2 separate regions of the Homo sapiens genome follow, and region 1 is linked to region 2. Evidence: fine-mapped expression QTL. A gene starts in region 2. The other region holds a variant in brackets. All regions are shown on one strand. Distances are between the middles of the regions.

Region 1 (2,914 bases), 31 kb after region 2:
CAAACAAACAAAAACCCACTAGTGCAAGACTCAGGCCAGCTCCCTCTGGCTCTTCAGAAAATGTGGTTGTTTTCTTGAATTTGGCCCTGGCTACAGCAATGACTTGAGAACGTCTGGAGAGACCTGGGTAAAAGCTGGGTGGGTAAGTTACCAGGCTCCGCCCAGACTCAGTCTCCCAGCACTACGGGCGCAGAACTGGGCTCTGAAGGCAGATGTGAGTGTCATGGTGTCTTCAGTGAGCCTGGGCTGTCAGCTCATGAAAAATTTAAAAAAGATTTTGAATTAGTTGGCATTTTTTAATGGGATGATTTTATATTTTAAAATGCAGCTTTCTGGCATATTTTGAAAATATGAGGCTGGGTGCCGTGGGTCACGCCTGCCACCCCAGCACTTTGGCAGGCAGAGACAGGAGGATTGCTGGAGTCTAGGAGTTCCAGATCAGCCTGGGCAACAAAGCAAGGCCCTGTATCTGGCCAAAAGGAAAGAAAGAAAGAGAGAGACAGAGAGAGAGAGAGAGGAAGGGAGGGAGGGAGGGAGAGAGGGAGGGAGGGAAGGAAGGAAGGAAGGAAGGAAGGAAGGAAGGAAGGAAGGAAGGAAGGAAGGAAGGAAGGAAGGAAAAGAAAGAAAGAGAGAGAAAGAAAGAAGAAAGAAAGGAAAGAAACTACCTTGCTAAGTAGTGAGCCCTCTGTCACTGGAGAAATGCAAGCAGAGACTGGAGATCATTGAACTACACCAAAGGGATAACTGTATCAAACACTTCTTAAGTCTCTTTCACCTGTGATAGTCTATGATTCAAATAGTTTAACTTCAAGGGCTCCCAGGGGGACTGAGTGGGGAAAGATGGAATGTGAGGTGCAGTGGATGAGATAAGGAGAGAACAAAGGAATGAAGTGGTGAGCTCAGCACTGTAGCTCTCAGTGTGCAGAAAAGTCAGTCAGGTTTGAGGTCAGGTCAAGGGAAACCAACAGTACATTTACATAAATGTGCTCTAAAGTTCACATTTGCTAATCTATGGGAACAGATAGATACACCGAGATAATCAACTCAGTTTGAGGCTTCTTGGAATCTTTATGCTGCTCATCACCCTGAAAGAACGAGACAGACGAGAGCAAAGTCATCTATGTGGTTACAGTGGTATTTTCCCAACTACAGGTTAGAAGTCATGAAATCAGTTTCGTTGGTTGTAACTAGCATTAAAAAAAATGGAAAATACCAGAGCGCATCACAAGTGATTAAATGACCAAATGTTTCATTAAAGTTTTGTTTCAATACTATGTAAGTCTATATATCATATATGTATGTGCACCAAATTACGATGTAAAATTGGTGAAAACGAGTTTGAAAGCCACTAGGTCAGAGACAGAGTGGGGGCAACCCTGCTCTGTGAGCCAAATCCTGTCTCAGATTAATTTTATCTGGCCAGGGGTGGAGCAAGATGGCAACCAAGTGCAATCCTGATGGGAGCAAGGTGACAACCAGGCCTGGGACCAAGCTCTGATGGGCTTCATTCCTGAGTCGAAGAGGCCACAGCAGAGTGCACAGGCAGATTCCAGACTTTCCTCGGGAAGCTGCTATCCGTTTTC[T/C]CAAATGAGGTCTGTGTGTCCCACCATTCGCAGACATACCTCCCCACCGTGACCACCACCATCCTGACACTTGCATATTGGCCACACTCCTCACCCTAGCCCAGGAGGAAGCCAGGAACTTCTGCATGCATCATGTCTTTGGAGTCCACCCCATGGCCAGTCCTGTTCCCTCCATCCCTCCATCTCAGCCCCTTAGTGCCTCTTCCATAAGATCGCCTGGGGTATGGCAATGAATTAGTGGCATAGTCTGTATCCCCTGTCTCCATATTCCTGAATTGCTTAACTTATTGAATAGGTTTCTTTAATATCATCTGCAGACTGAAGGAACTGACAAAAAATGATGGTGTGGATTTGACAGTTGCTATGAATGAGCTGCCTACAATTCTATCTAAGGCTGGCTCTCCATTGGAGCACAGGATTCTGTACTCTCACTTTCTTTTTTTTCCTTTAAATTAGAGATGGGGTCTCTCTGTGTTGCCCAGGCTGGTCTTGAACTCCTGAGCTCAAATGATCCTCCCACCTTGGCCTCCCAAAGTGCTGGGATCACAGGTGTGAGCCTCCACACCCGGCCCAACTCTCACTTTCCTGACACATCAATGATCCCCTCTCAATTATGCCCTCTGGCATACCAACATGATATAATTTTTCCCAATGTCGAAAATCAAAACATAACTTCTCTTGACCTCATAGCCCCCTCCAGCTTCAATCCTATTTTTCTATTCTCTTGGCAGTTAAAATTTCTTGAAAGCTTTCTCCAAACTTATGGATTCAAGTCTTCGTTTCAGTGAGTTCTGAGTCTTCCACTGGAACAAAACTGTTGTCAGTTCACCAAGGACCTTCATGTTGCTAAACCCAGTAGTGAACTTTTCATCTTTATCTTACTTAAGCCATTAACAGCATTTGATACCTTTGGTCACTCTGTCTTTTTTTGAAATACTTTCTTCATTTTGACTTCAAGACAACGCTCTTGTGGTTTTCCTCTTTCGACATTGCCCACTCTTTCTCATCTGCATTCTTACTTCTTCCTCATCATGCTGGTGTGTAAACACTGGAGTGCACTGATCTGGGTTCTGGACCTGTTTCTCTTATGCATCTACACTCACGGCCTAGGTGATTTTACCCACACACATGACTCTTCATACCTTCTATACCCTGTCAAATGTTAAATGATTTATCTCCAGAGCTCCGGGTGCATACATCCAACTGGCTAGTGCACATCTTCACTTGCATATCTTGTGACCATCTGAAATGTAATGTGTCCAAACAAAACTTCTCGCAGTTCTGTTTCCAGGGTAGCATAGTGAGCTCCTGCTGTATAAACCCCTACAGGT
Region 2 (2,914 bases):
GTTGCGGTAAGCTGAGACCAAGCCACTGCACTCCAGCCTGGGTGACACAGCCAGACTCTGTCTCAAAAAAAAAAAAAATAGAGAATATACAAATGGACAACGGTGGGACCACATATGATAACAGAACTCTGAGCCACAGTCTGCAATCGGCCAGGCCAGAGAACCAAACTGCAGCCTCTGCAGCAATCAGCCCAGAATGGTCAGGTTTGGTTAATGACTGCCATCTTCTCTATTTTTTGCTCTGCTTCCAACTCAGGACCCCTCAGAGAAAGCCAGATACACTCCCAACTGGATAACTTCAGATGCCGTGCCTCTAGTCAGCTGGTCCCTGATACCAACAACCTCCAACCAGAGCAGATCTGAAGATTTCCCTTTTTTCCACTGTGAAACTTTCCCACTCCCCTGCCTGCCTTTGAATCTTGGCCAAACATAAGTGATGTCTCGCTACAGCGAGCTCTGAATAAGTAGCCTCTGTTTGTCCTCATTTGGGTAGTCTACATTTATTTACACAAAATTAAGAATTTTGCTCATCAAAAGTCCCCATAGGAGGACAAGCTTCAGAGTGGAACAAGATATTTGTCATATATGTAACCTCCAAAGAGCTAGTACACAGCATATATGGAGAACTCCTAAAAAATCAATAGGAAAAAGACTTCAACAGGCACTTCACAAAAGAGAAACTCAAACAATCTCTATGAAAACACTCCTTGGCCTCATCAGTAATCAAAGAAATACAATCATCCTGTGCAGAAGGCATAGCAAGCATCGTCATTCTCCCCCACGGCTCAGAGCGGTAACTGACTTGCCCCAGAGAAGCCTCAAGCATGGGCTCAGACCCTAGGCAGGCCCAGGACTCTGTCCCATGCCTCCTCCACTCTCTCTGGGGAGTCAAGGGCAAGTGCCTTCTCACTCCAGACCCCGTCCTCTCATCTGGAGAAGATGAAAGATCTTTAAGGCCCTTTTCAGTTTAAAAGATTCTGCCTTCCTAAGCAAAGGGAGAGCCAATGATGGGAAGAAGAGGGGCAGAGAGGGATTGTGGCAGAGGCACAATCTACCCACAGTCATTAATGTTGGGGGGAATGGAAAGCCCTGGCTGGTTGCCCACTCAGTTCAATGAAAGCTCAGCACTCTGTTTAGCAGCACTAAAGAATGTAGGCAATCTTTTAGAATTTATCATCTGGAAATCTGTCTTCCTTTGTCCTTCAAAAACAAAACAAAGCTCATAAATGGTAATAGTAATGATCAAAATGTGCATAGTAGTAGTATTTCCATTTTAAGGATGAAAAAAATCAAGGTCCAGGGAGGTGGAAGAACTTGCCCAAAGCCACAAAGCACAAACAAATAGAATCCAGGGGTTTTTTTTGTACCATGGTACTGCTACCGGACTGCACTTCTCTCCTGTCCCAAGATCTGCCTCGCTCCCGGCAGCCTTTGGGACATGTAACCCTGTGTAGGCAGCCTCTGCATCCCATTCCGCAGGAGGCAAACCAGACTTCTTATTCTTGAACTGTACGCTTTGTGCTTTATCTCTTCAAAAGCACACACTCCTCTCACACACCCATTGCCTAAGCAACATGGGACACCAGCGGGGCTAAACCACTGGTTGTCCTCTGAGCAAAAGGCACGCTTACCTTGCCCCAGAAGCAGCAGCAGCTCCAGGAGGAAAATGCCTGGCCGCAGCCCCATGCCAGAATGCTCCAGGTGACTCGGGCCTCTGGAAGAGCTGCTCCAGCAGATGGATGGGCTATCACACCTCCTCCTGCTTTTATGTTCCTCTGTGTTCTGATAGAGCACCTGTCATAAATTTTACTGTGTTCACCTTTGAAAGGGGGTAGTGGCGGGCTGTAAATGATAAATATTAACACTTAGGCGGAAGAGTTCTTAAGGCAGATGAGTCAATGATGGGTAGCATGTTCTAGTCATAGACACTGACAGACCAGGGCCGCATAGCTGCCTCCATACAGCCTTCCATGATGGTGGGTGCCCAGAAATTGCCGGTGTTCGGGTCTGCTGGGAAGAACGTGGGCCTGGGAATCCCAGGTGCTGGTCGGAATTCCAAATCAACCACAGCTGTGGGAACTTGGGTGTATCCCTTAACGTGGCCTCAGCTTTCTCAGTTGTAAGCCAGGAGATCAAAAGTACCTTGTAACAAATGTAAACCATAAACCTACCTCCAAATGTGAAACGTGTTCCCACCGTGTCTCAGAAGCTCTGCTAGGTTCCCTGGTTTGCATGACACAGAGAGGTTTGTTCTGTTCCCCCCATCTCCAAACCCATGGGTGGCCAGTTGTGTTGGGTGGATGTGCACACCATAGATTTGTTGTCTGCATGTTGAATTCAGAGATACAAGCCAGAGAGGGGGAACCAAGTTTGACAAAATCAGCCGTTTCCTTTGGGTAAACTAAGTCAGGAATGCAGGCTGGGTCTAAACTGGGCAGACAAAGCTGGCATTTAAAGCCTGAGTGACAAATACCCTTGAGAGTAGAATTTAAATTTTTTACACAAATATCAAGAAACAATTGCCTTGGTTGATAGGAACAAATATATTTAAATTATCCTTGCTTTCTGGCCATGCTTGTGGGTGTGAGGCTGGGATCCTGACTTCTGAGGTCTAGCTAAGACTCTAGGGCTGGTTCCCATGACCCAACCTCAGATTCTGATCTCCTGGCTGACCCACTTTTCTCATATTTAAAAATCACAGCCAGACACAGTGGCTCACACCTGTGATCCCAGCACTTTGGAAGGCTAAAGAAGGAGGATTATTTGAACCCAGGAGTTTGAAAACCAGCCTGGGCAACTCCATCTCTACAAAAAATAAAAATAAATTAGCCAGGCATGGTGGCATGCACCTGTAGTCCCAGGTACTTGGGAGGCTGAGGCAAGAGGATTGCTTGAGCCCAAGAGTTCAAGGTTG

What was found.
Region 1: its variant is fine-mapped to the expression of PLB1 in whole blood (TOPMed, PIP above 0.99).

The regions. Positions count from the first base shown.
Region 1 is chr2:28,463,754-28,466,667 of GRCh38, reverse strand. No RefSeq gene overlaps it. Among named protein-coding and RNA genes, the nearest start is that of PLB1, 31 kb to the left of the region's middle. The variant T/C (reference allele first, on the strand shown) is at 1,584.
Region 2 is chr2:28,494,887-28,497,800 of GRCh38, reverse strand. It overlaps PLB1 (phospholipase B1), which reads right to left and starts at 1,741. Exons shown (of 58, transcript NM_153021.5): 1 at 1,632-1,741. The coding sequence starts at 1,686.